Linked DNA regions of Homo sapiens. The protein of the gene in region 1 purifies or fractionates together with the protein of each later gene. This does not show direct contact. Each region holds a gene or a part of one and is shown on either strand. Other genes may lie near its edges.

Region 1 (7,829 bases):
CACAGGCCTGACAGCCACATGCTCCTTCAACAACTATTTATTGAGCTCTTTGCCAAACATGTACTTGGTAATGGGGAGAAAAAGGTGAATAAAACTCGTGGAGGGTCAGTGGTCATTGCTCTGGGCTGGAGAAGGGGACCATCTCCCAAAGTCCCCTTTAAAGCAGCAGTCCTCTCTGTCTCTAGCTGATAGGATCTACTTTGCCAATCCTCTCAGGTTCTCCGCCATGAGAACCTGAGTTTTCTCATCTGTCTCCAAGGGGAGGGGGCAGTGATAAGAAGCCAAGGAAAATAAAGGAAGATAGGCTGGGCGCGGTGGCTCACGCCTGTAATCCCAGCACTTTAGGAGGCTGAGACGGGCAGATCACCTCAGTTCAGGAGTTCAAGACCAGCCTGGCCAACATGGCAAAACCCTGTCTCTACCAAAAACACAAAAATTAGCCCAGGCGTGGTGGTGCATGCCTGTAGTCCCAGCTATTTGAGAGGCTGAGGCAGGAGAATTGCTTAAACCTGGGAGGTGGAGGTTACAGTGAGCCGAGATTGCGCCACTGCACTCCAGCCTGGGAGCCTGGGTGACAGAGTGAGACTCCATCTCAAAAAAAATAAATAAATAAAAAGAAAACAAAGGAAGATGCTTTGTGATCTGAGCTGTAGCATCCTATAAACACGTACCGTATCGGAAAGAGCATCACCCAGTTTTGTGGACAGCAGAGGGCAAAAGCCAGATCCAAGTCCTGGTTCCTTGAGCTGTCTACAGGGTTGACCTCACGGGTTGGCTCAGCCTCTGACACATTCTGGCAGGACCGGGGTGTCTCCCAGGGACAAGGTGCAGAAATGGAAAGCACATGGACCTTGGTGCCAGACACACCTGGGGCCTTTTGGGGGTGGTCTCGCTCTCTAGTTGTGTGGTTCTGATAGGTCAGCCACTCTTTCTGTGCCTCACTTTCCCCCTGGGTGACACAGGTAGCTGTGTTAAGTCAGCTCATGTCACACCTCTCTCAGGACCTTCCCACGGCTCACTGGAGTAAAGCCAGAGTTGTCACCATGGCCCACAAAGTGCTGCAGAAAGTGATCCCCAGTGGCCGGGCGCGGTGGCTCACGCCTGTAATCCCAGCACTTTGGGAGGCCAAGGCGGGTGGATCATGAGGTCAGGAGATCGAGACCAGCCTGGCCAACATGGTGAAACCCCGTCTCTACTAAAAATACGAAAATTAGCCGGGCGTGGTGGCACGTGCCTGTAGTCCCAGCTACTTGGGAGGCTGAGACAAAAGAATCGCTTGAACCCGGGAGGCGGAGGTTGCAGTGAGCCAAGATTGTGCCACTGCACTCCAGCCTGGGCGAGAGTGAGACTCCGTCTGAAAAAAAAAAAAAAAAGAAAGTGCTCCCCAGCATCCCTTCTCCAACCTCAGCCCTACTTGGCTTCCTTTTGTTTCCCCTGCCTCAGCCACACCCGCCCTTCCTCAACACAGGATGCACGCTCCTCTCCAGGGCCTTTGCACTGGCTGGTCCCTCTGCTGGCGTTTTTGTTTTTGTTTTTGTTTTTTATACAGGGTCTCACTCACTCCGTTACAGGCTGGAGTGCAGTGACACGATCACAGCTCATTGCAGCCTCAAACTCCCAGGCTCAAGTGGTCCTCCTACCTCAGCCTCCCTAGTAGCTGGAACTATAGGTGCATGCCACCACACCTGGCCAATTTTTGTACTTTTTGTACAGACAGAGTTTCATCATGTTGCCCAGGCTGGTCTTGAACTCCTTGGCTCAAGCGATCCGCCTGCCTCCGCCTCCCAAAGTGTTGGGATTATAGGCATGAGCCACGACGCATGGCCTCTGTTGGCATCCTTGTTCCCTAGATATCCACAAAGTTTGCTCCATCACCTCCTGAGGTCTCTTCAAATCTCATGTTCACTCAGTTTAGAATTTGCAACCCCTGATACACACACGGACACACACACACACACACACACACACACACACACACACTCCCTGTGTCCCTTCCCCACCTCAGGTTTCCCCATGTGTAATTGTCATCACTCACATATATGGTGGTTATTTGTTCAGTGTCTGTCCCTCCCAACCCCCCGATTAGAATGCCAGCTCCATGAGGGCAGAACTTATACCTGATTCACCGCGGCCTCCCCCATGCCTAGAACCGCGCCTGGCACCTCGCAGATACTCAAGGAATCCTTGCTGAGTTCTCAGTGTGACTCAGGCCAAGGTGGGGACAGTCCAGGGCTTCTCAGGAAACTCCCCAGCTCCTCCCAGCCCACACAGTCAGGGGGTCTGGCAGCTCACAGGGAAGGAAGGAGTGGGACAGAAGGAAGTTGGCGCTTGCAGAGATCCCCTGACAGGGGCAGCCACTGTGGCCCTTAAGCAGGAGAGTCTTAGGGGTCACCCAGGTTTCGCTGGGGGTAGCTGGGTGGACCCAGAGTGCCAGGTCAGGACCCAGGCAGCTTTAGACCCCTGTGCGGATCCACGGTGAAGACCAGTGGCTTCATGGGGTGACCCCTGAGCTGCGACCCCCCACTGCTGAACATGCCGGCTTAGCCTGGGCTCTGGCCTCAGTTTCCCTGCCTAGCACTCCAAATCCTAGGGGGCTCAGGCCCTGGCTGCCCACCTAGCTCTCCTTGGGGGCCTCTGTGCACTCCCATCCTACCTGGAAAAGTCATATGAGATCTGCTGGCTACCCTGACCTTTCAGATACTATCTGGAGACGTTTACATGTCAACCTCACCGATCCTACCTTTCAATGCAGGCCTTTTTTTTTTCCCTTTTTTTTTTTTTTTTTTTTTTGAGATGGAGTCTCGCTCTGTCGCCCAGGCTGGAGTGCAGTGACAGGATCTCAGCTCACTGCAACCTCCGCCTCCTGGGTTCAAGCGATTAGCTCTGCCTCAGCCTCCTGAATAGCTGGGACTACAGGCGCCTACCACCACGCCCAGCTAATTTTTGTATTTTTAGTAGAGACAGAGTTTCACCATATTGGTCAGGCTGGTCTCGAACTCCTAACCTCAGGTGATCCACCTGCCTCGGCCTCCTGAAGTGCCGGGATTACAGGTGTGAGCCACCACGCCCAACCCAATGCAGGCCTCTTAAGTGGTCACCCTCACCACCCTACACACACCTGGGGAGGTCCCAGCACACCTCCCTGCTGGTCTCAGCTCATTCCCACACAGCAGCTGGACAATCTTTGCACCACGCGAATCTGACCATGCCACCAGCCAGATTAAAGCCTTCCATGGTTCGGCTGGGCAAGGTGGCTCATGCCTATAATCCCAGCACTTTAGGAGGCTGAGGCGGGCGGATCACAAGGTAAGGAGATTGAGACCATCCTGGCTAACATGGTGAAACCCCGTCTCTACTAAAAAATACAAAAAATTAGCCGGGTGTGGTGGCAGGCACCTGTAGTCCCAGCTATCAGGAGGCTGAGGCAGGAGAATGGCGTGAACCCGGGAGGTGAAGCATGCAGTGAGCCGAGATCGCGACACTGCACTCCAGCCTGGGCGACAGAGTGATACTCCATCTCAAAAACAAACACAAAAACAAACAAGCAAACAAAAAAAAAACCTTCCATGGTTCCCTACTATCCTAAGGATGGAGTCCAGACCCACCCTCCCAGCACCCCAGGCCCTGTGTGTCCAGCCCCACGCCCATTTCCCACCACTGCCACCTCCACTCTGTGCTCCAGCCACACAGAATTTCTTTCACTTCCTCCCACCCGCGCTTTCTTGCCTCTGAGCCACCTCCCACCCCATGATATTTCTCTCCCCTCACTCCCCTCTACTTTGTTTGGCAGACTCCTACTCATCCTTCGGCCCTGGGTGCAGACATCTCCTCCTCCAGGAAGCCCTCCCTGATCCCTAGGACTTGTTAGGGACCCCCACCCCTGTGTGTAATGGGTTGTATTTCCTTGCTGTCTCTCCACCAGACAGGGAGAGGCTGAGTCAGCTCTGGGTGCTTGAGGCCACCCATCTCAAGACCTGGCAGGGAGCAGGCACTGGGGAAGGGTGGATGGTCAGAGTCTCTGACGCCATCACCCAGCTTGTCACCAAGCCGGGTTCCAAGCCGAAACGTAGTTCAGTACCTCCTGGCCCTGTCTCTAATTCTTCCTCCTCTCCAGCTGCTTCCTTGGGCCTGTTGGCAGAGACAGTACAGATGCTAGGCGAATGGGAAGAGAGCAGAGGGGATCCCATCCACGTGACTTTGGGCCCAAAGGTGGGGTGTGGGAAACAGGGAAAGGAGCACTGGATTGGGAGTCAAGCTTGGGTTTAAGTCGCATCTCTGTTTTCTCAGGCTGTGTGACCTGGGGTGAGCCACTCCATCTCTCTGGGTCTCCACTTTCCCATCTAAAGGATCGGAACAATACCTGCCTCGCAGGGTTTTGGTGGAATCAAGTGGTATACACTGTAGAGGTCAGTGAGCAGCTGGGAGGTTAGAATTGCTGTCTGTCCAGGAGGGGTCAGGCCTGTAGCCAGCACTGGGGTCTCGCTCTGATTTAGCATCTCCCAGCTGGCTGGGGTCACACAGGGAACTGCAGGAAAGGCCCTTAGAGGCCATCAGGTCCTGCCTCCTCCCTTTACCCAAGGGGAGGTAGAGACCCAGAGAGGGGCAGCACTTGCCTGAAGTCACACAATAGGTGTGAATGAATAGCTGCAAAGGCCCAGGACTGAAACCTGGTCCCTTCACACCGTCACCTCCCTGGTTCGCCCAACCCTGAGGTAATGCCCAGAGAGGACAATAGAGTAGTCCAGGCTCATACAGCCAGCATGGGGTAGAATTCAGGCCTGAGAGTTCAAGACCAACCTGGGCAAGATGGCTAGACTCCATCTCCAAAAAATAAAAAGATTAGCCGGGTGCAGTGGTGCACACCTATAGCCCCAGCTACTCAGGAGGCTGAGGCAGGAGGAACCATTGAGCCCAGGAATTCAAGGCGGCAGTGAGCTGTGATCCCGCCACTGCACTCCCTGGGTGACAAAGCAAGACCCCGCCTCTTAAAAAAAAAATTAGCCGGGTGTGGTGGTGGGCGCCTGTAGTCCCAGCTACTGGGGAGGCTGAGGCAGGAGAATGGCGTGAACCCGGAGATGGAGCTTGCAGTGAGCTGAGATCGCGCCACTGCACTCCAGCCTGGGTGACAGAGCGAGACTCTGTCTCAAAAAAAAAAAAAAAAAAAAAAAAAAAAAAAAAAAGATGGCCAAGCAAGGTGGCTCATGCCTGTAATCCCAGCACTTTGGGAGGCCGAGGTGGGCGGATCATGAGGTCAGGAGACTGAGACCATCATGGCTAACACAGTGAAACCCTGTCTGTACTAAAAATACAAAAAATTAGCTGGGCCTGGTGGCACACACCTGTAGTCCCAACTACTCAGGAGGCTGAGGCAGGAGAATCGCTTAGAACCTGGGAGGCAGAGGTTGCAGTGAGCCGAGATTACGCGACTGCACTCCAGCCTGGGTGACAGAGCAAGACTCCATCTCAAAAATAATAATAATAATAATAATAGAATTCAGGCCTGAGGCCACATGGAGCCACACACCTCCTCCCTGTGTGGCCCTGGCAGGGCGACCTCCCTGGGCCCTGTTTCCCTAGCCCTGTGAAGATGAAGCTGGACTTGCCAGTTTCCAAGGCCACCCCAGCTCTGATTCTCCAGGATTTGTGTTGGGCCCGCTAGGGATACGATTTGCAAGTTACAGTTAAGTATCCAGGCCCCCTTACCAGCCGTTTGGGGAGCTGGCACGTGCAGTGATGCTTGGCCACCTGAGCTACACAGAAAGACCCAATGGGAGAAGGGAAGCCTCTCCCCACGCAAGTTAATCAACTGCCCTTTGGGTGTTGCGGCTGATACAGAACCTCAGAGGCACAGTCTGGCCTCATGCACAAGTCATTTTTCCTGAGTCCTGGATTCCTTGCTAAGTGGGAATAATCACAATAATCTTGGTGTGTAAAATATAAAGGCTTAGGCAAGGCCAGGCGTGGTGGCTCACGCCTGTAATCCCAGCACTTTGGGAGGCCAAGGTGGGCAGATCATCTGAGGCCAGGAGTTCAAGAACGGCCTGGCCAACATGGTGAAATCCTGTCTCTACTAAAGAAAAAAAAAAATGCAAAAATTAGCCAGGTGTGGTGGCGCACACCTATAGTCCCAGCTACTTGGGAGGCTGAGGCAGAAGAATTGCATGAACCCGGGAGGTGGAGGTTTCAGTGAGCTGAGAACAAGCCACTGGACTCCAGCCTGGGCAACAGAGCGAGACTCCATCAAAAAAAAAAAAAAAAAAAAAGGAGGCATAGGCAAGAAAGATCACCTCATCTCACCATCATCCCACTATCCACAAGCAACAGAGACATCACTAACCACACACAGCACCAATTCCCAGTGAGGCAGGCCACAGCCCCTGAGTCTTTCTCAGCACAGAACTGTTTTCTCCTGAGCTTGGACACAGCCTAGAATCCTCAACACTGCCTCCAGACCAGGCCTGAGAGATGGAACCATCAGCCATTCCCTATCCTTGATAATAGCGGAAGCTGGCTGTGATTGTAAATACCCTCAGGTGCTAGGAAGGTTTTGAACCTGCTCTTCCCCCACTCCTCCATGCCCTCCTGTCCGAGCCTCAGCCCCCTCAACCGCATCCTGGATGTCAGCTGAGGCACCCACGTTTGCCCAGGAATGTCCTAGCTCAGCAGTCAGGCAATCACAGGGGGAAAGTCACAAGAAGGGGGAACTTTCTGGTAACCTCAGGCTTTCCGCTGCCAACCCCAGGCCAGGGGCTGCCAAGGGGCCTGGGTCCTCTGCCTTTGCCAGGCTGGCTGACCCTGGGCCTGAGAAATAGTAGCTGATCCGATCCCCTGTTCAGCACCTGAGGCAACCAAGCCACTGTTTGGTAGCCGTGGCGGACTGGAACCCAGGGGTCCTCTGTCTTCTATGTCGGCCACCACCACCTCTCCCTGGCTTCTTCCCTTGGAAGCCAGCAGAGCTGACCTCCAGGGTCTGCAGGTTCATGACGTCTTCTGGAGGCATAAGGAGAGAGGTGACTCTTGAGGGACTGACAACTGCCTTGTCCAGTCAGCAGCCACAACCCTCCAACGTCCCCCTCCCTGGCCCCACCAGTCCACTCCAGAGACATCCTGTAGAAGGCCCACCCGCTGGCATGGGCTCCTTTCTGGCTGCTGAGCCATTCTGCTCGCTCTGTGAGGACAGGGAAAAAATGTGTTTTCCTAGCTCTTGGCAGTCAGCACTGCTGGAGCCTCCTCCCTGCTGGAAGGGGAGCAAGGCTGGAAGAACCAAGCACCACAGAGAAGCAACGGCCTGGGGTTCCAGCCCCAGTTCAGGTACCCTCTCACACTCGCTGTGTGGCCTCAGGTACGGCACTCCCTCTCTCTGGGCCTCAGTTTTCCCACTATGCCAAACGTCCTCCGAGCCTAAGGTACCTTCCAACAATGACTGTCTCTGAGTTTAGAGTTTCAGATTCTGGCCCAGAGCTCCAAGACCACCAGCAGAATGGAGGTAGGGAAAGGAAAGCGGTGAAGGCTTCCTGGAGGTGGGGGCATGAGACACAAACTATCAGACTATCAGACTAGCCCTCTTCTCCACCTGCACAGCCACAGACCACTTCCTCCTTCATCTGGACCATGACCACAACCGCCTGCTCACCAGCCTCTTGCCTTGCCCTCCGTCTCCAATCCCCATCATTGATCCTCCCCCAAGAGCTGTCAGAGGAATCACTACTGACACAAACCCACGAGCCTGTCCGTGCTTGGCCCATTTCAAAACCCTGCAATGCCAGCCTCCCCGCAAGCCAACACAGTAGGGTCCTCAGGCCTCAACCGTATTCCTGTCCACTCTCTCC
Region 2 (7,829 bases), on another chromosome or scaffold:
TCTTGTCATTGTTGCCACTGTAGCTCCATCCTGCCCCCCTTATTCAACCCCTCAGCCCTTTCTTCCATCCATAGAAGGTAGTTCCATGACCATACCTTTCTCCAACCTTGGGCTTTCACAGGTGGAGGCTGCCTGTGTTCGGGATTACCACACATTTGTGTGGTCTTCCGTGCCTGAAAGTACAACTGATGGTTCCCCCATTCACACCAGTGTCCAGTTCCAAGGTACAAGGGAAGATGGAAAATTGGGAGAGAGGAGCCAAGGGAGTGGAGGTTTGAAAGAAGGTAGTGGGCTCAGAAACATTAAAAGTTAGGCACAAAGGACAAGGAAAAATAAACGAAAATAAATATAATGAGAATATATCCAACAGCGCTCAGCGGATAGAGAATCACGGGATTATCGCAGAATCAGGGACATAGAAACAGAAGGAACTTCAGAGGGCATCTAGTCCCCTGTCCTACCCAAAGAAGGAAAAATGGGGGAGTAAGGAAGAGGGAAAGGTAGAATTATGTGGTGAGAAGAGGGAAAGACCTGGGTTCAAATCTCACCTCTAACACTTACAAGCTGTTTGGCCTTGGGCAAATTACATAACCTCCCTGTGTCGGTTATCTTAACAGTAAAAGGGGATGCCTGGCTTATAGGGACATTACGAGGATTTAAAATGAAAGCTGCAGGCCAGGCGTGGTGGTGCATGCCTGTAGTCCCAGCTACTCACAAGGCTGAGGCAGGAGAATCTCTTGAACCCGGGAGGCAGAGGTTGCAACAAGCCAAGATCGCGCCACTGCACTCCAGCCTGGGCGATGGAGCAAGACTCTGTCTCAAGATAAAATAAAATAAAAAGTGTTACCACAGTGTCTGGTACATGGTACGCACTCACTACATGGTAACTAGCATTATTATGATTATGATAGAGGGGCAGTGGGTTTGGGAAAGAAAGGAAGGAGAGGGACAGGCAGAAAGGAGGGAGAAGAGTATGGCCTGTGGGAGGTGGAGAAGAGAAGAAACAGTATATGGAACACCGAGCAAGGGGCTGGGGCCAAGGACAGTGGATTATTGGGGTCCTGGGTCCATTCTTCTTCCCACAGCCAGCTACCTGCCCAAACCAGGAGCTCAGCTCTACCAGTTCCGATATGTGAACCGCCAGGGCCAGGTGTGTGGGCAGAGCCCCCCTTTCCAGTTCCGAGAGCCAAGGCCCATGGATGAACTGGTGACCCTGGAGGAGGCTGATGGGGGCTCTGACATCCTGCTGGTTGTCCCCAAGGCAACTGTGTTACAGGTGAGAAAAGAGCAACAGAGTTATTCCCAGACAAGGGAGTGGGAGACAGCATTGCAAGAGGACCCTTCCCACCTTACCCTCCCCTCATCTGTGGCGCCAACTAAAGACCTCGTTGAAAGTTAGACAAAGTCCTGCCTCCAGGAGAGTCTCAGTCTAACATAGACATACACGAACATGTAAGGCAGGAAAGGAGACCACCCACAGGCCAGTGTAACTCAGGATTTCATAAGAACTTTTGCAGCCTTCCTTCTCCATGCACTGCATCCTGCCCTATGCCCTAGAGGAAGATCAAAGGGTGGAGAGAGGCTACTCCAGGGAACATTCAGAGAAAGGGGAGCACAGGACCTGCTTCTAGGACGAGTGGGGAGTGAGAGCAGATAGGCAAGGCCCCAGACCTGTACTGTCCAATACCAAAGGCTCTTAACTATATATGGCTCTTGAGCACTTCAAATGCAATTAATCCAAACTGAGATGTACTATAAGGGTAAAATATACTCCAGATTTTGAAGACTTAGTATTTTTTAAAGAGAATGTAAAAGACTTCAATAATTTTTATTTTGACTACATGTTGAAATGATACTGTTTGGGGTTTTTTTGTTTGTTTTTTGGGTTTTTCTTTTCTTTTCTTTTCTTTTTTTTTTTTTTTTTTGAGACAGCCTTGCTCTGTCACCCAGGAAGATGTTTATATCTCACGTAAGTGAAAGATGTGTGAGCTCCTACTCTCTGTTGCGGTTTCACAATCGTGATTCTCATTTGAGCCTTACAACAATTCAGACTAAGGGATCATGTTACAGATGAGGACACAGAGACTTAGAGAAGTTAAGAAGCTTGTTCAAAATCACATAGCTAGCTGGGTGTAGTGGCATGCATCTGTAGTCCCAGCTACTGGGGGAGACACTGAGGTGGAAGGATGGCTTGAGGCCAGGAGTTTGAGGTATGGTATGCTATGGTTGCACCTATGGCTAGCCACTGCACTCCAGCCTGGGCAACACAGTGAGACCCTATCTTTAAAAAAAATCACATAGCTAGTAAAAATTGCACTGAAGATTTGAACCCAAGTCTGTCCAACTCCAGAGCAGATAGGGTAAAATTAGGGGACCCATCCCTTGTGTCTGTGTTCATTGACTTGTGCCACATGAGGGATTCCTGCAATTGCTGGATGAGGAAAGGGCCAGGCCTAGAGTGGGGAGGGGTAAGAGAGATGGGCAATTCAGAGTGCCATGAGCTGGTGCATCTGACTGGGTGGTGGACGGGATTCGGTAGCACACTGAGCATCCCCTTCCTCACCTCTTTATAACCCAAAGCTATGTAACTTCCCAAACCCAAAATGCACCTGGAGAGTGGTGAGGATGGGACCTTAGAAGGGGTACTCCACCAGCACACTCCCCTTCTCCTTCTGCTGCCTGTAGAACCAGCTCGATGAGAGCCAGCAAGAACGGAATGACCTGATGCAGCTGAAGCTACAGCTGGAGGGACAGGTGACAGAGCTGAGGAGCCGAGTGCAGGAGCTCGAGAGGGCTCTGGCAACTGCCAGGCAGGAGCACACGGAGCTGATGGAACAGTACAAGGTGGGAGCTGGGCCAGGTAGGGGACAGGGCCTGGCTGCTCACCCAGCATCCAAAATCTGAACCCAGTGAAGAGGGTGAAGGAGAGATGTTAGTGGGCTTTTACAATGGTTCTGGCATCAAGGAAATAGGTTTAAGGGGTAGTGGCTGGGATTAAACTTGATGTGACAAGAGACATGTTCCAAACGTGTAATGAGACTCAGTTCTTTGAACATAGGAATGCTGGGGTAAGGTGGAGGTGGCCACGTTGATAGGTAAGGGAATGTTCCCTTACAGTTTCTTTTTCAAGGAAGGCAATGTGATAGCCAGGTGGAAGCAGTCAGACCCTGGTGTGCTCTTCCTAAGCCTTTGTTCCACCACTTGAGAGATGAGTCCCAACCTCCCTTTTCTTCTGGGGGAAACTTAATTTCAGGGGATTTCCCGGTCCCATGGGGAGATCACAGAAGAGAGGGACATCCTGAGCCGGCAACAGGGAGACCATGTGGCACGCATCCTGGAGCTAGAGGATGACATCCAGACCATCAGTGAGAAAGTGCTGACGAAGGAAGTGGAGCTGGACAGGTGAGGGGAGTCCACTGACCCCGTCACTTCCTCTCCCTTCCATGACCCCCGCACTCCAGCCCCCTCTCTCAGGCAAGCAGACCTGCTGTCTGCCTCACACGCTTTCTCTTTCCCTCTCACCCTCACTCAAGCTAGTTACTGGGGATACCCTTTTCTGCCGAGCTCTCTACCATCTTTCCAAATGCTATTCTGTATTCCTCCACTTCAGAAATAATCATAGTTACCACTTATTGTACAGCAAAAGCTGAGCAAGAGCTAGGAGTGGAGGATTTGGAAGAAGAGAATGGATGGAAGTCAGTGCAAGATAAGAGAGGATGGATTTCAGATGTGGCCACAGGAAAGATAAGATTAGACTGTGTTCTTACTATTAAGAAACATTATAACTGGTGATCCAGGAATGTTATGGAATCTCTGCCCTGGAAAAAAAAGATGCAAATCATAAACTCTTAGCACTGGGATTGTAAGATATGTATGAGGGTATGTAAGAGGTCACCCTCAGGAGGCAGCCTCTTTAACATTTGACAGCTGTCATTTTTGTATCTCTTGTATTGAGCCAAACTCTCCTCTCCTATAACTTACCAGGGGGTCCTGAGACCTCTGGAGCCACACAGAATAAATTTCTTTCTTCTTCCAGAAAATTGTTTTCTCTACCAAGTAGCATAAATATTAACCACCACCTCCCATGTCCATCCTTCAAATTTTCACCAGTTTAAACACTCTAGTTCCTTATTTCATTAAATGACAAAATTATGTTTCATTTACTACTGGTAGGTGTGATATTTTAAAAAACTGTTTAAAAGAAAGAGGCATTCTATCCAAGGCCCAAAGTAATAAGTGAGTTCGTCTGAGAGGCTTCTTCAGGATATGTTAGTCTCACCCTAGGGAGATATTAGATGTCTACATTCTAAGTCATAGGTTAGAAAAGCAGTGGTCAGATTGAGCATCTGGAAAAGATTAGGGGCTATCTAGACCAGAGGTCAACAACTATGGCCCACAAGCCAAATCTAGCCTGCCACCTGTTGTATATCCCACAGGTAAGAATAGTTTTTACATCTTTTAATGGTTAAGAACAAATTAAAAGAAGAATATTTTGTGACATGTGAAAGTTGTATGAACTTCAAATCTGTGTTCAAGTTTTATTGAAACATCATGCTCATTCGTTTACATACTGTCAATGGATGGTCCTGCACTACAATGGCAGAGTTGAGTAGTTGCCACAGAGACCACATGGACTGCAAAGCATAAAATCTTTACTATCAGGCCCTTTACAGAAAGAGTCTGCCAACTTCTGGTCTAGATCAAAAGTTTATAATCAATAATGACTGCCCTTGTCTCAAAAAGACTAGATTCTAGTCTCTTGATTGAGTGAAAACAATGGGAGCCATCAGCAAAACATTCCTTAAAATATTACACAAAAAGATAAGAAAAACTATTTCTGTCTAAATTGTTCTCTAGAACCTGGAATCTTGGTTTCCTGGGGCTTAGAACTGGATCAGCTGGCTTGGGGATTTATGCATCCCAGAGTGAAATGGAGCTCTGGGCCTAGAGCAGCAGCAGCAGAGCACAAGACAGAGGCCTGAGTCCATTCCTTCTCTGGGTGGAGCAGATTGTCTGACATGTCATCCCACCAATCACAGGCTTAGAGACACAGTGAAGGCCCTGACTCGGGAACAAGAGAAGCTCCTTGGGCAACTGAAAGAAGTACAAGCAGACAAGGAGCAAAGTGAGGTAAGGGGCTCAGAGTTGATTTGCTTTCTCCATTGTCCAGCCAGTGTTTGATTCCCTCTCGAGAGCCAGACACCAAAGGGAATAAAAATGTAAAGAAGACATTGTGTGCACTCTACTAGGGAACATAAGACATATACCTAAATCAGGATTAGTCAGAGTGGAAAAGTGGAATATAAGAGTGTCACAAGAGAAATTTTTTTTGTTTGTTTTTTGGAGACAGAGTCTTACTTTGTCTCCTGTGCTGAAGTGCAGTGGTACGATCTTAGCTCAGTGCAACCTCTGCCTCCTGGGTTCAAGCAACTCTCACGTCTCAGTTACCTGAGCAGCGGGGATTACAGCCATGTGCCACCATGCCCAGCTAACTTTTGTATTTTTAGTAGAGACAGGGTTTCACCATGTTGGGCAGGCTGGTCTCGAACTCTTGACCTCAAGTGATCCACCCACCTCAGCTTCCCAAATTGCTGGGATTACAGGTGTGAGCCACTGCGCCTGGCCTCAAGAGAAATCTAATAAAGTATTGTGGAGCTCCAGGGAGGTGTATGAGTACACATCTTGTTAGAGACATTAGAAAAGTCTTTTTAAAATGGGTGTGGAGGCCAGGCACAGTGGCTCATGCCTGTAATCCCAGCACTTTGGGAGGCAGAGGCAGGCGGATCCCCTGAGGTCAGTTCAAGACCAGCCTGGCCAACATGGTGAAACCCCATCTCTACTAAAAATACAAAAATTAGCCAGGTGTGGTGTCAGGTGCCTGTAATCCCAGCTACTCAGGAGGCTGAGGCAGGAGAATCACTTGAACCCGGGAGGCAGAAATTGCAGTGAGCCTAGATCACACTACGGCTCTCCAGCCTGGGCAACAGAGTGAGACTCTGTGCCAAAAAAAAAAAAAAAAAAAAAAAAAGGGAGGGCCATGGCTGGGCGTGGTAGCTCACACCTGTGATCATAACACTTTGGGAGGCCAAGGCGAGAGGATTGTTCAAGCCCAGGGGTTCAAAACCAGCCTGGGCAACGTAGTGAGACCCCATCTCTACAAAAAATTTTAAAAATTAGCCAGGCATGGTGGCATGCACCTGTAGTCCCAGCTACTCAGGAAGCTGAGGTGGAAGGATTGCTTGAGCCCAGGAGGTCAAGGCTGCAGTGTGCTGTGATCGCACCCCTGAACTTCAGCCTGGGTGACAGAGCAAGATTCTGTCTCAGAAAAAAAAGGGGTGGGGTGTGGGGCCTAGTACTTTCAAACCTTTTTAGCAGAACCCTTTCCTCTCCTCCCACCAATAAAGTTTTTAATCTTGTGTGGAATCTCACTGAATAAACAAAAACAATGTTTTATTACTATAAATTTATTTTTATAAATTTGAATGTATAACCTTTACTTAAAAGGTAATGAAAGCACTTAGGTAATTTTGAGGCATACCAAACTTTGAAATGAGAGGCTATCGAAGACTGTTCTGCCAGCCTCAGCAACTAATGTATTTCCGTATTTTATTTTGGTTGTACAATATCAAGAACACCTTGAGTCACACACAAGTAGGTGCAAATAACAATTTTTAAACTGTCCACCTTGCAACTCAGTTTACTCTTCAATTCAATAGAAAATACAGTAGAAACTATTCTGAGCTTTGCAAAAAAATGAATTAACCTGGAAACATATGTCAATTGGTGATCTCCAGTGTGTTAACTTGTGATTTTATGGGTTTTATTTGTTTTGTTTGTTTGTTTTGAGACGGAGTTTCATCTTGTTGCCCAGGCTGGAGTGCAGTGGCGCGATCTCGGCTCACTGCAACTTCTGCCTTCCGGGTTCAAGAGATTCTTCTGTCTCAGCCTCCTGAGTAGCTGGGATTACAGGCACCCGCCACCACGCCCAGCTAATTTTTTGTATTTTTAGTAGAGATGGGGTTTCACCATGTTGGCCAGGCTGGTCTGGAACTTCTGACCTCAGGTGATCCGCCCACCTCGGCCTCCCAAATCATGCCGAGATTGCAGGCATGAGCCACTGCACCTGGCCTTGTGTTGTTTTTCTTTTTTTAACATAATTGTTAATAATTTAGAAGACATTCAAATCAAGTATCTGCAGAACTCCTAAATCCCTTCTTCAGTACCCTGGGTTTATGTGGAAGATTGTTAAAAAACCCTTTGCTCAGCAGTGAGAATAGGTAGAATATGAGTAGACAGAGATGAGTGTGAGGCTATTCTAGGAACAGAGAAAGACGTGAGCAAAGGCTTAAAGGCCAGAACACTCAGGGCAGTTGAATGTGCGGGTGAAGTGTTTGAGATAAGGCCTAGGTTAGACTGTGGTGGATCTTGAGCTTCATTTTTATTCCACAAGCGTGAAAGGCTTTGATGATTTTTCAAGCAGGGGTGACGTGTACTGTACTTATGGCCAGGTGTAGTGGCCCACGCCTGTAATCCCAACATTTTGGGAGGTGAAGGCAGGAGGATCCCTCGAGCTCAGGAGTTCAAGACAAGCCTGGGCAACATAGTGAGACCCTGTCTCATCTCTACAAAAAAATACAAAAATTAGGCAGGCGTGGTGGCACACACCTATAATCCCAGCTACTGGGGAGGCTGAGTTGAGACAATTGCTTAAGCCCAGGAGTTGGAGGCTGCAGTGAGCTGTGACCATGCTACTTCACTCCAGTCTTGGCGACAGAGCCAGACCCTATCTCTAAAAAAGAAAATAACTGTATTTAAAGAATCAGAACTGT
Region 3 (7,741 bases), 6.3 Mb from region 1:
AATACTCAGAAGTTTGTGTTTCTGGACCATTGTGAAGTTTATCTTGTTTATCGATTGGAGCCCACTTATATCCTTTCAATATTTTCTTTGCATATTTTATTGTTCTGTGTTCACAGCCCAGACAGGCACCTCAGGGCATGAATCATAGCTTCATCTGGATGAGAAGCCAAATATTCTTCTCCTGTTTTTACTTTTAAAAGTCCATTAATTTTTATTTTGCTCTATTTTATGGGCTGCCATCTAATTTCCCCTTGGAAGTAAAGTGAAATACAGATAAATTATTTATTTCTTTAAATGTTTTATCATTTCTGAAATTGGGGTGCATCTTATATTCAATGCACCTGGGAATTTAAGATTCATGGTGTCAACCACACTTAGAATTGCAGCAGACACTTCACTAATGTGCCCAGTATCCAGGGGCCTAGACAGACAGAGAGACAGAGAGACAGATGGAGTGACTCCCACGAGTGGATGGGATTCCTCTGTGTGTTTAGAAGAACCTGGAGGGGTAGAAGGCTGCAGGCTCATTTCTGCTTTTGAAGTCATTGACCTCAGTCAAGGTTAACACAGCTCCTGCCCCCATCTGATTTAGAAGGTCTCATGGAAGAAGTTTAAGGACACACAGTCTTCTTTATTTCCCTCTTGCTTCATGCTCTAGAAGTTTTCACCTGGTCACAAAGGGTGCACACTTTGGCACACTGGGGTACAAGTATCCTTTCCAAGTTCTGACACTGTAGTTGTGGGACCAGCCCAAACTGGGCCTACCCTGTTGGTAACAAAATGTCAAGCTGCCTTTTAGGTAGAACAGAGCCCAAAACTGCAAGTCATGTAGCCTGGGCATGTGCCGTAGAAAAAACTTTGACCTCCAACAACACCCAGAACCAATGATTCGTCCTCTTAGAACCAAGAAGACTGGGACATGACCAGAAGTTGAAAACCAGAACTCATTCACAAGCAAAGGGGTCCATCAGCCTGGAAGGTCTGGGGCTAAAATCTACTTTAATATACATTACCACATATGGTCAAATTTGAAGCCCTCCAATCAGACCCTGGCAAGCCAGCATTGATAAATACTTTCTCTTGCCACCTGATCCCTTAAAACTTGCCCCATACCTCAAATCAGGGAGACGGATTTGAGCCCACCTCCTCTCTCCTTGCTGGTCAGTTTTGCAATAAAGCTTTTCTTTTCTCAAAAGCTGGTGCCATATGTATCGGCTTCCGTGTGCATCAGGCAGCAAGACCACTTGCTCAGTAACAACATCCTTATGCCCTAATTCCCTTGAGTGAAAACTGCAGGTCTGAGTGAATCCAGCTCTGTCCCAGGCCTGCCTAAAGAGTGCAGATGGTTCCCAGCTTCAGCCTCCTTGAATACTGTGTCCTCAAAAGACTGGCATACTGGGTATTGTTAACTGAAGAATGACGAGGTTCATAAACCTGGAAAGGAGAGTTTTATTTATCATAAAAGGTTGCACCCTGCAGAGTGGCCATTTGAATAGGCTGGGAAGTGTAGCCTCTGGCCAGAAGCCATAAACAGGCACTTCAAGGGTTGGAAGAGTAAGACAGGAATTTATGTTGATCAGGGTGGCCAAATATACATATTCAATAAGCTACAGGAGGAGTTATAAATATTTATGAGAAGAGAAATATGCACATGTGCAACTGAGCTTCATCCCCCTTCATGGGTAGCACCTACAAAAAATGGCAGTGTTAGCGTGATCTGAAGGTGGAGTTTTCAGCCCTCTAATGTCAAAAGGTGTATCAGAGGACACAAAAGCTTTCACTGCACATCCTCCACAGGCTGGCCAGAACCACTCCAGGGTTGGTGGTCTCTTACTAGGAAAGAATGCTGGTCAGTTGTTGTGTGCCACAAAAAGGGAGGGGCAGTGTCAGATGGTTGGTTGGTATCAATGTTGAAGTCTTTCAAAGAGGCTTGTTTCTGTTTAACTCTTAAGGAAAAAAGCCTAATGGTGGTTATCGGTTATGGAGCGGGGGCAGATAATGAAGTGTGTCCAACCTCCCATCCCATCATGGCCAGGAACTCGGCTTCCCAGGTTTCTCTGGGGTCCCCTGGCCAAGAGGGGGTCTGTTCAGTTGGTTGGGGGGGGGGGGCTTAAATTTTTATTTTTATTTCTCAGTATCTTTTCTCTCCAGCCATGCCAGCTTGAAACTGACCATGCAGAAGGATCACCTAGGTCAAGCTGGGAATCCAGACCCGGAATCAAACAGTTCTTACCCTTTGGCCAGTGTATTAGTCTGTTTTCACGCTGCTGATAAAGACATACCTGAGACTGGGCAATTTACAAAAGAAAGAGGTTTATTGGACTTACAGTTCTGTGTGGTGGGGAGGCTCACAATGACGGCAGAAGGTGAAAGGCACGGAGGAGCAAGTCAGGTCTTACATGGATGGCGGCAGGCAAAGAGAGAACTTGTGCAGGGAAACTTCCCTTTTTTTTTTTTTTAATTTTTTTTTGAGATGGACTTTTGCTCTGTTGCCCAGGCTGGAGTACAGTGGTGCAATGTCTGCTCACTGCAAGCTCCGCCTCCTGGGTTCACGCCATTCTCCTGGCTCAGCCTCCCAAGTAGCTGGGACTACAGGCGCCCACCACCACGCCTGGCTAATTTTTTGTATTTTTAGTAGAGACGGGGTTTCACCATGTTAGCCAGGATGGTCTCGATCTCCTGACCTCGTGATCCACCCGCCTTGGCCTCCCAAAGTGCTGGGAGTACAGACGTGAGCCATTGTGCCCGGCCGGAAACTTCCCTTTTTAAAACCATCAGATCTCTTGAGACTCACTCACTATCACAAGAAGAGTGCAGAAAAGACCTGCCCACATAATTCGATCACCTTCCACCAGGTTCCTCCCACGATGTGGGAATTGTGGGAGTTACGACTCAAGATGAGATTTGGGTGGAGACACAGCCAAACCATATCAGCCAGGTATCTTCACTCCTTGGTATTTACTCTGGGGAACCCAGCAGAGAAAAGGGTGGGGATTTATATACAAGTGTAGTTTATAAAACTTTAGCATGGTAAACAAGATAAGGATCTATCAAAAAGGGCATGGCTAAATACTTTGCGGTACAGGAGTTCCATGGACCACAGGCAATAACTGAAAATCATGCTTCTGAACTATCTTTAATAGGAAAATGCTCAAAATTCAATGTGCTGTTATGGTTACAAAATATTCATAAGGTAAAAAATATTTTGTAGAACATATCATAGAAAAATGACTGGATGGAAGTACAGAAATATTACTATCTCTACGTTACATATATATGTATTACTATTTGCTATCTTTAGGTGGAGGGAGTCTGAGTAGTATAAAGTTTTTTTTACTTCTCTTACATCAAGATTTGTTACATTAAATTTATATTCAAATCACAATAAGGGCCTGATGCAGTGGCTCACGCCTGTAATCCCAGAACTTTGGGAGGCCAAGGCAGGCGGATGCCCTGAGGTCAGGAGTTGGAGACTGGCCAGGCCAACAAGGTGAAACCCCGTCTCTACTAAAAATACAAAAATTAGCCGGGCATGGTAGCACGCGCCTGTAATCCCAGTTACTTGGGTGGCTGAGGCAGAAGAATCGCTTGAACCCGGGAGGCGGAGGTTGCAGTGACTCAGGATCGCGCCACTGCACTCCAGCCTAGGCGACAGAGCGAGACTCCGTCTCAAAAAAAAAAAAAAATAAGAAGAACAGTAAATCATCAAAAAAATAAACCCAATGACAACCACAGAAAGAGCCTTGCAAGCCCTCTTGGGAGGAATGACTGGGAGAACACCAGGTACCCGCCCTGATGAAGACGCCGCAGCAACTACAGTCTTCCCCGATTGGCAGCAGCCCGAGTTGGGGGGTGGGGGGGGGTGGGACTTTGTGCATCACTTCCGGGGGCGGGGCAGCGGTCGTCTCCGCACGCGCGGGAGCGGTCGGTATCCATGGCAACCAGCGGGGCCAGCCTAAGGCCCGCCCGCCACCGCCACCGCGCCGGCCCCGCCCGCACAAAGGCCGCGCGGTGACCCGCCCTCTGCCGCGACCCCGGCCCCGCCCCTGCCCCGGCCCCGGCCTGGCCCGGTCCCTGCACCTGCCGGAGGCCGCCCGCCGCCATCGCCAGCGCCGTCGCTTGGCTGCGCTGACCGGGAAGCAGTTCTCGGCGGTCCGCGCGGTGATTCATCGGCCTGGCCGCGTCCCCCGCGCGGGCCATCTTGGTCACGGCCGGCGGCGGACAGAGCCGCGGAGGAACCGCGAGACCCCAGGTACGCGTGCCCCCGGCCCCCTGCCCGGCCGGGCCCCGCCACTGTGGTGGCCCCCAGGCCCGCGGCCGCCAAGGAGCAGCCCCCTTTGTTCTCCCCCGGGCGGGCGCGGGGCGGGCGCCGCGGGGCTTTGTGCAGCCTCGCCACCCACGCGCGGGCCCTCCACGCCGCCCCTCACCCTCCTGCCCGCTAGTCGCAACTGAAACCTTGAAAACATCTTTTCTTAATCCTCCAGGGCCCAGAGCAGGTCCAGCCACCCGTCTGGCTCCGTAGTCCGCGAAGTCTGCAGTAAAGGAGCCGCGTGGGACCGGGGCCGAAGTCCCTAGGGCCTGGCACCGCGTGCCCCTCTCTCGGGCCCTCGGCTTGGGGGTCTCGCAGCGCCCTGCCGTCGTGCACCCCACACTGCCCCCATTTCTACAGGGGCCCACCTGGTCACCACACCCTCTTGGTCCACCCGCGGATCTCAGCGTGTGGCTGACCTCTGGCCAGCATGGTGCAGCCGCAGACGTCCAAAGCTGAAAGCCCAGCCTTGGCAGCGTCTCCGAATGCCCAGATGGATGACGTTATTGACACCCTGACCTCCCTGCGCCTCACCAACTCGGCGCTGAGGCGGGAGGCTTCCACCCTGCGGGCGGAGAAGGCCAATCTCACCAACATGCTGGAGAGCGTGATGGCAGAGCTGACCTTGTTACGCACCAGGGCGCGGATCCCGGGGGCTCTGCAGATCACCCCGCCCATCTCCTCAATTACTTCAAACGGGACTCGACCCATGACCACACCTCCAACCTCTCTGCCCGAGCCCTTTTCCGGGGACCCAGGCCGGTTGGCGGGGTTCCTGATGCAGATGGACAGATTCATGATCTTCCAGGCCTCCCGCTTCCCGGGTGAGGCCGAGCGTGTGGCCTTCCTTGTGTCTCGACTGACTGGGGAGGCGGAGAAGTGGGCTATCCCCCACATGCAACCTGACAGCCCCTTGCGCAACAACTATCAGGGGTTCCTGGCAGAGTTGCGGAGAACCTACAAGTCTCCGCTCCGGCATGCGCGGCGCGCCCAAATCAGGAAGACTTCTGCCTCTAATAGGGCTGTGCGAGAGAGGCAGATGCTCTGCCGCCAGCTGGCCTCTGCGGGCACGGGGCCTTGCCCAGTGCATCCAGCTTCCAACGGGACTAGTCCAGCGCCAGCCCTGCCTGCCCGAGCACGGAATCTTTAAGAATCCGCCAGCACTTGGTAGCGTCTGCAGCCACCCAGGTAGCATACGCTCTTTGCTGTGTAGAAGAAATGCCCATACGACAGCTTTGCCCCTGTTTGAAGACCTCCCTTCTTGCCTCTCCAGACGTGTTCCCCGAGGAGATCTTCCTTCCGTCCTTCCTGGCGCCCTGGTTGCCCACCTTGCCGTGCTTCCTCTTACGTGCTAGCTTTGTACCTATCGCTCACTGCATGCTCGCCTCCCTCTTGCTGGCATCCCGGCCTGTTTCAATGACTACCGCTCTGCTACTTAGGCACAGGGACTCCGCCGCACGCTGACGGACCACGAGGGCTGACCCCTTCCAGCCTGACTTGGTTCATGGAGGCTCCTACTCTGCCCTCTCCAAGCTCCCCTGGCGGCTCCCCACCTGGTTGCCCAGTTCCTATTGATGAGCTCTGGACAGAAAGATGCCCGTTTGGCCAGGCTGGTGGCTTGATGGGTGTACCTGGAGAGGGGGTCTGGCTTCCTGCCCAAGATGCCTCCCAGCCCTGCCAGGGCCCGGTGCAGCGGGCAGGGCCTCATCTGTGCTGTAGTGGTCGAGTGGTTGCTGCAAGGAGCGTAGTTCTGCCATGTCTGGGGGCCAGGTTCCACTCTGCACATGAATATGCAGTCTGGGAGGCCCCACTGCTCTCACTGGGAAGGACCAATGTTGCACCTCTGTTAATGCCTGACTTCAGCTGCTGGTGTTCTGATGGAGCCAGAGGCTTGGGGAATCTGGAACTTGCCTGCTAAATAAGGTCGTGGTGGACTCTCAGCCATTGGGCAGGTCTATCAGGCTGCAGGTTCCTACACACCCACGCCTGAGGGTCATAGCAGGCTAAGGGTGGATACCAGCGACTCCCTTTGCTGCCCAGGATCTCCATGGGCAGTGCCACAGCGGCTGATGCTCAGTCACTCCTGCTTCTACCCCCTGTCACTGATGGCGAGCCTTGCCCAGCTTGAGACCTGTTCCCATCTCTATTCAGGTGCCATGTGGCCTTCACTGCAGCCCTGCAGCCACCCACGCACCATCTGTGGGTCTCCAAAGGCACCTTGTAGCATGTACTCCCCGTGCCTGGGCAATCAGATGGGCTGCCTTTGTCCAAGGGAAAACAGACTCCCTTCGGGAAACATCCTTAAGCACTTAAGGCCGGGGGGGGTGTCTGCCTCTGGCAACCCAGCCAGGGTCTTGGTGGCATTTGTAAAAGCAAAGAGCTGTGGACTGCCGTGGTCCTAGTGTGGTGACAATGCAGCACTGGCATGCATGTCCTCCTTCTGAAGGACCTCATCCTTCCTCACAGGGGGATGACCAAGAAATCATTTTGTGGCTGAGTTTGGCCACGCCCTTTGGACTGTGCTGTTCCGCCATATTTCAATGCCAAATGAACCACATTGACATGACCTGGACCATAGGGCTTCCTATCCTGGGCTCAGCTGCCCCTGTCTGAAGGGTCTTGGCTTGATTGCAGAAGGACAACCTCCGCACCCACCTAAAGACATGTATATGTCTTGGGATCCCAGAGATTGGGTCCTTGGGCCTGGCTTCTTAAGAGTTTTGATGATGCTGGGAAAAGTGACTGCGATTCTGAAGAACCGCTGCCTTGCAAGGTCAAGGACATTCAGTGGTTGCTGGGGTCCGCAGACTACTGCCACCCACTCACCATCAACTCTGTTAGCCCAATTGCCCTGCTGAACAACTGCCTGAATACAGGCTTTAGGTTCCCCTGGACTCCAGCCAAGGCTGTTCAGGTGGGACCATGGTGCTCTTTAAGCGTGATCGGAGGGAAGACACACAGCAGGGCCACCATTCCATGAATGGGAGGTGTACAGATCACTTTCTCTTTGTGCTCAGTTCTGTTCTGTCTCCAGCAGCTATATTGGTAAGACTAGTACCTGCCAGGGAGAGGTGCCCCCAAGTGAAGGGGTACAGTGGCACCTGGGAAAAGGCACCTGGAAGGTTTCCATGTGGCCCAGCCCAGCATGGAAGCAGGGTGGGAACTCTGCTGTGTCGCCAGCGCTCACTCTACTCGAGTGGCTTTTTGAAAGCCCTACCATGTCTGTGTCAGGCCTGTGCTGCTTCACATCCTACAGCTGCCTAGGAAAGGCCGGCCACGCTCCCTGTCCACACACTCCCTGTCCACACACTCCCTGTCCACACACTCCCTGTCCACAACTGCAGCCGGGCCCTCTGCCTATGGGCACCCAATCCAAGCAGCTGCTCCACCTTTGTTTGGCATGGTGATTTGTGTTTTTTCTCTTGGTGCTTA
Region 4 (7,829 bases), on another chromosome or scaffold:
AACTTGTCTGAGATCATTGTGCAAGAAGTGGCAGAGTTGGGGTTCAAACCCTGAACTCCTTGTCTCTAGAGCCAACCCTCTTAACCACCATACTCACTGGCTCCCAGGATTCGTCTTTGATTGAAAGCCCATAACTTTTCATTATATGGTTTGAAAGGGTTTGAATAAACTCTTAAAAAATGGTAAAGATGGTGTACATGCATTTTAGAGATTTTTGTGGACATTGAAGAATTTTTAAATGTAACCCTTTGACCAGGCAGCTTAAGTGGCACCTATTGTCACCCCATTGTGAGTCTGACGAAGTATAGCTCTTTCTTTATTTGAGGTTTCTAGGTATTCAGTTTACTTACCCAGATCCATCCTGCTTGCCAAGTATGAAATTATTCCTTGTTTCAAAGGACAGCTAATGAAGCTCTATGACTTTAAAGGGAAAAAAGTATTATACACACACTAAAAATATTATTCATTTTTATTTTACATCTTTGCCTCTGTGAAGCTGCTGTTATTGCAACTTCTTTTTTTTTTTTCAGATCAGTTGCAGGATTGGACTTGGTAGTTTATGTAAAACAATTAATTGGCTGGGCACAGTGGCTCAAGCCTGTAATCCCAGCACTTTAGGAGGTCGAGGTGAGTGGATCACCTGAGGTCAGGAGTTTGAGACCAGTCTGGCCAACATGGTGAAACCTCGTCTGTACTAAAAATAACAAAAATTAGCCGAGCTGGTGGCACACACATGTAATTCCAGCTACTCGGGAGGCTGAGGCAGGAGAATCGCTTGAACCCTGGAGGCAGAAGTTGCAGTGAGCCGAGATTGCGCCACTGCACTCCATCCTAGGGGACAGAGTGAGACTCTGTCTCAAAACAAACAAACAGACAAACAAACCAATTCATGGACATCATAGAACATTTCCTAATGGAAGAGGCCAGGTTTCCCTGTCCTCAGAACCATAGCAGCTGAGTGATTTTATGATTCTGTAACTCGCAGCTTTCTGCTAAGCATATTGACATGTTGATTCATAGCAGTGAATTAGGACAGCAGTCTACAACATTTACTGCAGAAAATGCTATCTGCATAATTCACTGTCAAAATTATATTATCTTGGCCGGGCACAGTGGCTCACGCCTGTAATCTCAGCACTTTGGGAGGCCGAGGTGGGCGGATCACCTGAGGTCAGGAGTTTGAGACCAACCTGACCAACATGATGAATCCCCGTCTCAGCTAAAAATACAAAAATTAGCCGGGCGTGGTGGTGCATGCCTGTAATCCCAGCTACTCGGGAGGCTGAAGCAGGAGAATTGCTTGAATCTGGGAGATAGAGGTTGCAGTGAGCCAAGATTGTGCCTCTGTACTCCAGCCTGGGTGACAGAGTGAGACTCCATCTCAAAAAAAAAAAAAAAAAAAAAAAAGTATTATCTTGATTTTTATGGAGATGGATCCAAAATCATTCGTCTGTACCCTCTCAATTTGCTTTCTTAGCTTGAATGAAAAAGCATGCATCTGAAATGGTAGATCCACATTAGGGCTACAAACTGTGGCCCTGAACCAGAAAGAAGATAACTGTTTACCCAAGGCTCCCACTGGTGTTTTTAGTCTCAATTAACATTGTACCTAATCAGCCAAGGTAGGTCATACCATCCAACAAGATGACCAGCCTGATGCATTGATGAGCATACTGAAACAAAAATGTCTCCTTTTTCTGACAAACCAAACTTCAGTCATCTTTTGCCATCTGGCGGTATAGCAACCTGCTGGTATCCCTGCCACTGAGATTTCACTCTCTTTCCAGATCCTTCCTGGGCATCAGTAAATAGGGGAACGTTTTTATGTGATGAGTGCTGCAGTGTCCATCGGAGTCTAGGGCGCCATATCTCCCAAGTGAGGCATCTGAAACACACACCGTGGCCTCCAACACTGCTTCAGGTAAAGGATAAGAATTCTCCTGACAGTTGGTAATTTACATTTTAGGGCTCATCATGTTAATAACTTAAATTTCTCCTGGTGTACTTCTTCCATAAGACAAAACTGTTTCATAATTGAATAGAGATGGCATGCCCATCAATGCTATTTACAAATATTATCTGTATTGAATTCAGTAAAGACTTTTCTTCCTACTTGACATAAATCTTGTTCAACAAGCTCAATTATAGGTAGATAGATGAATAGTCATTAAAATATCTTGGTACTGTTGCTCTGTTGACTTTCTAGACTGTCATCGGAAATGTTTTTTTTTTTTTTTTGAGACGGACTCTCACTCTGTCATCCAGGCTGGAGTGCAGTGGCGTGATCTCAGCTCACTGTAACCTCCGCCTCCCGGGTTCAAGCAATTCTCCTGCCTCAGCCTCCCAAGTAGCTGGGATTACAGGCACCCGCCATCATGCCCGGCTAATTTTTGTATTTTTAGTAGAGAAGGGGTTTCACCATGTTGGCCAGGCTGGTCTCGAACTCCTGAACTCAAGTGATCCACACCTCAACCTCTCTCGAAGTGCTGGGATTGCAGGCGTGAGCCACCGCGCCCGGCCAGTAGTCCATCTTTTCTATGCATGATAATGAATGTTTCTGAAGGCTACTGCCTGAGAATCTTTTCTTTAATGTACTTATTCCTGAGTACCTGCTAATATTTTTAGAACATGTTTTTCTGCTTTGATAGCAGCATGGGCTGGGATTCCTCAGAAACTTCTGAAACATTTTAAGTTTTCTTAAAGCTCTTGTTACTAGTCAGAGAGACCAAATTAAATTAATATGTTTTGATTGCATGTAGAATACCCTGTTAAATGAGTTCTTTGTTTTATCTGGAGTCCAATGTCATGTCACCTTTACTTCTATCTTGGGGTACACATTCTTCAAGTTCTCTTGGAACTCAAGGTTAAGTGTGTGTTTTGCCTTCATTTGTCTTGATTACACATTTCACTGAATCTGTGACAGCTGCACATATCCCTTAAACTTGGCTGTGTGAACCAAGGAGCCAAAACAAGTGGGTTTGTATCTCTGATGTGAAAATAACTACACTGCTGTAAAAAACAGATGGGGCTGTTTTAGGAGTCATGCCTTGAAATGAAATTTGGAGATATGATTTATTACTAACTTTTGCTTAGAAGTTTCTAACCGCTCACGCTCATGTGAAAGGGGCTGTTTACTGCTCTCAGGTCTGTCTGTGTTTGCAAAGCCAGATTGTAGTACAGAGTCTCAGTAAAGTCCAGAGATGAGTTGTTTAGAATGCCAGGGTTGACCCTAAAGCAACAATTCCCCAAATGTGGAACCACCAGTGGTATTCAAGACAGATGTAGGTAATACATGTTTTTTTTAATGGTTACATTATTTTACTGTGTATGGGAAAGCTATAACTAGCACATCAAACTGTAGTTGTTTTTACAAGTAAGTGGCTTTAAAGACAAATATTAAGTGAATAATATAGACAGTACATGGGTCATTAAGAATGTTGAAAATAGTGTTTAATTAGGTTTGGGAAACCCTGCTCTAAGGTGTCAGAGTACTTTTTTTTCTTTCATACAGAATAAGAACAGTTCAGTCACACTTTAGGTATTTAACTATCCTACTAGTCAAAGCTGAATCCTGCATATAGATTGATCATCTTTCTCATTCTCAAATCAGAAAACAATGATATGAATGATATTCCTAACAAATGAGTGTTTATAACAGGACTTTGTTTACTCTGTTCAGTCACTGATCCCCATTGAATATTTGTGAAAAGAAATTAAAGTCTTATGTCATCCTGCTTGGTTTTAGATGGTTGAGACCTTGTATAATAACGGTGCTAACTCTATATGGGAGCATTCTTTGCTGGACCCTGCGTCTATTATGAGTGGAAGACGTAAAGCTAATCCACAGGATAAAGTACAGTGAGTGGAATGTTTATAAATACTTTTATTTCTTCATAACAAATGGGGCCCACTGAAAGGAGTGCAGCTATTTTTGGTCAGTCTCCGCAAGGGCAGCAGAGGAGGGGGTTACCCTAGTTGTGCATCAGGTTCTTTGCTATTAGAAATGCAGAATGGGGTGGGGCAGGACCATCTGTTTAGCATGGCCACCCAGCAGGAGTAAGTGGCTTCCTCAGTTGGAAACCATGGCTTGGAGTCTGTAAATGTAATCAGATTTAAACTTATACTCAAATAAGAGGCGATCAGACCAGAAATCTAGGTCTGGGCACCCGTCTGCCTGTTGCCTCACTTATAAGATGGGACTAAATGCTGCTTTCTCCCAAAGTTGCTAAATCAGTTCAGACAATTACACAGAGAAGAGGGCTACTATAAAAAGCAGGTACTCTGGAGTCCCAGCCATTATAATAACTAATGTATGTTTTCAAACTGCAGGTCTTAAACCTTGCTGAAACTTACTTGAGCATTGTTCATTTTATTCTCAAGTGGGGGATGTGGGTCACTTCCTCTTCTTTTTACAGTACAAAGAATGGGGATTGTTGTATCTGAACGAGTGAACTGTTTTCTTTTTTGTTTTTGAACCAGTCCCAATAAAGCGGAATTCATCAGAGCCAAGTATCAGATGTTAGCGTTCGTCCATCGCTTGCCCTGCCGGGATGACGATAGTGTGACTGCCAAAGATCTTAGCAAGGTGGGTCACACCTTTTAAAATCCCTAAAAGAGCGGGCTGAGACAGCATATTGTTTTATTTGAAAAAACGAAAAAAAAGTCTGGTTGTGGGCTTTTTTTTTTTTTTTTTTTTTTTGAGACAGAGTCTCTGTTACCCAGGCGGGAGTACAGTGGCGCGATCTTGGCTCCCTGCAGCCTCTGCCTCCCGGGTTCCAGCGATTCTCCTGCCTCAGCCTCCTAGGTAGCTGGGATTACAGGCGCATGCCACCATGCCCAGCTAATTTTTGTATTTTTAGTAGAGACGGGGTTTCACCATGTTGGCCAGGCTGGTTTCGAACTCCTGAGCTCAGGTGATCCGTCTGCCTCGGCCTCCTAGTGTTGGGATTGCAAGCGTGAGCCACTGCACCCGGCCAGGGTTTTTTTGTTTTTCGTTTGTTTTTTTTGAGACAGGGTCTTGCTCTGTTGCCCAGGCTGGAGTGCAGTGGTGCAATCACGGTTCACTGCAGCCTTGACCATCCAGGCTCTAGCAATCCTTCCACCTCAGCCTCCCGAGTAGCTGGAACTACAGGCGCATTACCATACCCAGCTAATATTTTTTATTTTTTGTAGAGACGGGTTCTTGCTATGTTGCCCAGGCTGAAAAAAGTTTTTAAAGAAAGAAAAACAAAAACTCATTTCTGCACATTCATTAATTAATAGCTTTTTTGTCAGTCGGTTTCGTCTTTAATCTGAATTCAAATGGCAGCCATTCATATAGTGGAGGTTCAGGGCAAAGAGGAAAAGTAAGTCTCTGGAAGGCTGTTTGTGTTTTTCCAATATGGCTTTTAAATTATATTTTGATAAGTTTTTTGTTTGTTTAACTTTGAAATAGGAACCATCTCAGAGTTGTTTCTAGAAGGGACTAGAAAGATTATAGGACAATTGTTTCTTTTTAATAAGGACTAGAAAAAGTACTAAAGGAAGGGGACTTCTTCAGGTTTCCAGGTTGAACAGTAAGTATGATCTTCAGAAAGCAATGTGTGACTCAAAGCTATAGTACACAGAATGGTTTATGATACTTGTAAAACGAGTGAGGTGGTTTTCTTTATGTGGGCCTTCGCATGTTTTTGAGAGATGCTGTAAGAAATGTGCATATTTTCAAAGCGCTGCCTTGGATAAATGCTTACTCACACAGAGCATGAGAACTTACTTATTCAGAACTTTTTTTATTACTTTTTGGCCGGGTGCGATGGCTCACTCCTGTAATCCCAGCACTTTGGGAGACTGAGACTGGCAGATCACTTGGGCTCAGAAGTTCAAGACCAGCCTGGGCAACATGGCGAAACCCCGTCTCTACAAAGAATATAACAATTTTAGCCGGGTATGGTGGCCGTGCCTGTAGTACCAGCTACCTGGGAGGCTGAGGTTGGAGGATGACTTGAGCCCAGGAGGTGGAGGTTGCAGTGAGCTGAGATTACACCATGGCACTCCAGCTTGGACAACAGAGCAAGACCCTGTCTCAAAAAAAGAAAACATTTTCTGCATCTATTGAGATGATCATGTGGTTTTTGCTTTTGCTTCTATTTATTTATTTATTTATTTATTTATTTTTATTTATTTTTGAGATAGAGTCTTGCTCAGTCGCCCAAGCTGGAGTGCAGTGGTGCGATCTCAGCTCACTGCAAGTTCTGCCTCCCAGGTTCATGCCATTCTCCTGCCTCAGCCTCCCAAGTAGCTGGGACTACAGGTGCCCACCACCACACCCGGCTAATTTTTTTTGTATTTTTAGTAGAGACAGGGTTTCACCATGTTAGCCAGGATGGTCTCGATCTCCTGACCTCGTGATCCTCCCGCCTCGGCCTCCCAAAGTACTGGGATTACAGGCAGGAGCCACCGCGCCTGGCCTGCTTTTACTTCTATTGATGTGGCAAATTACATTTATTGATTTGTGTATGTTGAGCCAGCCTTGAATCTCAGCAAAAAAGCCTACTTGATCATGATGGGTTAATTTTTTTATTTTTATTTTTATTTTTTATTTTTTATTTTTTTGAGACAGAGTCTCGCTCTGTAGTCCAGGCTGTAGTGCAATGGCATGATCTTGGCTCACTACAACCTCCGCCTCCCAGGTTCAAGTGATTCTCCTGCCTCAGCCTCCCAAGTAGCTGGGATTACAGGCACGTGCCACCAGGCCCAGCTAATCTTTTGGTTTTTTTTTGTTTGTTTGTTTGTTTGTTTGTTTTTGAGACGGAGTCTTGCTCTGTGGCCCAGGCTGGAGTGCAGTGGCGCAATCTTGGCTCACTTCAAGCTCCGCCTCCCGGGTTCATGCCATTCTCCTGCCTCAGCCTCCTGAGTAGCTGGGACTACAGGCGTCCGCCACCACACCCGGCTAATTTTTTTGTATTTTTAGTAGAGACGAGGTTTTACTGTGTTAACCAGGATGGTCCCGATTTCCTGACCTCGTGATCCGCCCACCTCGGCCTCCCAAAGTGCTGGGATTACAGGCGTAAGCCACCACGCCCGGCCATTTTTTGTATCTTTAGTAGAGACGGGGTTTCACCACGTTGGCCAGGCTGGTCTCGAACTCCTAACCTCATGATCCGCCTGTTTCAGCTTCCCAAAGTGCCGGGACTACAGGCCTGAGCCACTGCGCCCAGCCATGGTGGATTAACTTTTGATGTGCTACTGGATTTGGTTTGCTAATATTTTGTTAAGAGTTTTTTAAAAAATCTGTGTTCATCATGGATTTTGGCCTGAAGTTTTCCTTTTTTGTTGTGTCTTTGCCAGATTTTGGTATCAGGCTGATGTTGGCTTCACAGAATGAGTTAAGGAGGAGTCTCTCCTCTTTGATTGTTTGGAATAATTTTAGTAGGATGTTCTTCTTTGTATGTCTGGTAGAATTCAGCTGTGAATCTCTTGAACTGGGGAGACGAAGGTTGCAGTGAGCTGAGATCATGCCACGGCACTCCAGCCTAAACGACAGAGTCTCACTCTGTTGCCCAGGCTGGAGTGTCGTGGCACAATCATGGCTGACTGCACCCTCAACCTCCCTAGTCTCAAATGATTCTCCCACCTCAGCCTCTCAAGTGGCTGAGATCTCAGGCATGTGCCACCAAGCCTGGCTAGTGTGTGTGTGTGTGTGTTTTGTTTTTGTTTTTTTTAGATAGAGTCTCTGTTACCCAGGCTGGAGTGCAGTGGCACGATCTCGGCTCACTGCAACTTCCACCTCCTGGGTTTAAGCGATTCACCCGCCTCAGCCTCCTGAGTAGCTTGGATTACAGGTGCCCACC

Evidence for each region.
Region 2: the proteins of MAFF (region 1) and CALCOCO1 purify together in Homo sapiens (affinity purification with mass spectrometry; 3 studies listed by BioGRID and IntAct, with this or other methods). This does not show direct contact.
Region 3: the proteins of MAFF (region 1) and RTL6 purify together in Homo sapiens (affinity purification with mass spectrometry; 3 studies listed by BioGRID and IntAct, with this or other methods). This does not show direct contact.
Region 4: the proteins of MAFF (region 1) and GIT2 purify together in Homo sapiens (affinity purification with mass spectrometry; 3 studies listed by BioGRID and IntAct, with this or other methods). This does not show direct contact.

What each region holds. Positions count from the first base shown.
Region 1 is NC_000022.11:38,204,775-38,212,603, reverse strand, and holds part of MAFF (transcription factor MafF), read right to left. Parts: intron 1-7,829. UniProt on the Homo sapiens protein: Since they lack a putative transactivation domain, the small Mafs behave as transcriptional repressors when they dimerize among themselves.
Region 2 is NC_000012.12:53,717,040-53,724,868, reverse strand, and holds part of CALCOCO1 (calcium-binding and coiled-coil domain-containing protein 1), read left to right. Parts: intron 1-121; coding exon 122-224; intron 225-1,085; coding exon 1,086-1,276; intron 1,277-2,685; coding exon 2,686-2,844; intron 2,845-3,253; coding exon 3,254-3,402; intron 3,403-5,039; coding exon 5,040-5,130; intron 5,131-7,829. UniProt on the Homo sapiens protein: Functions as a coactivator for aryl hydrocarbon and nuclear receptors (NR). Recruited to promoters through its contact with the N-terminal basic helix-loop-helix-Per-Arnt-Sim (PAS) domain of transcription factors or coactivators, such as NCOA2.
Region 3 is NC_000022.11:44,494,555-44,502,295, reverse strand, and holds the start of RTL6 (retrotransposon Gag-like protein 6), read left to right. Parts: upstream 1-4,062; 5' UTR 4,063-4,252; intron 4,253-4,484; 5' UTR 4,485-4,739; coding exon 4,740-5,459; 3' UTR 5,460-7,741.
Region 4 is NC_000012.12:109,985,719-109,993,547, reverse strand, and holds part of GIT2 (ARF GTPase-activating protein GIT2), read left to right. Parts: intron 1-1,787; coding exon 1,788-1,921; intron 1,922-3,745; coding exon 3,746-3,858; intron 3,859-4,479; coding exon 4,480-4,585; intron 4,586-7,829. UniProt on the Homo sapiens protein: GTPase-activating protein for ADP ribosylation factor family members, including ARF1.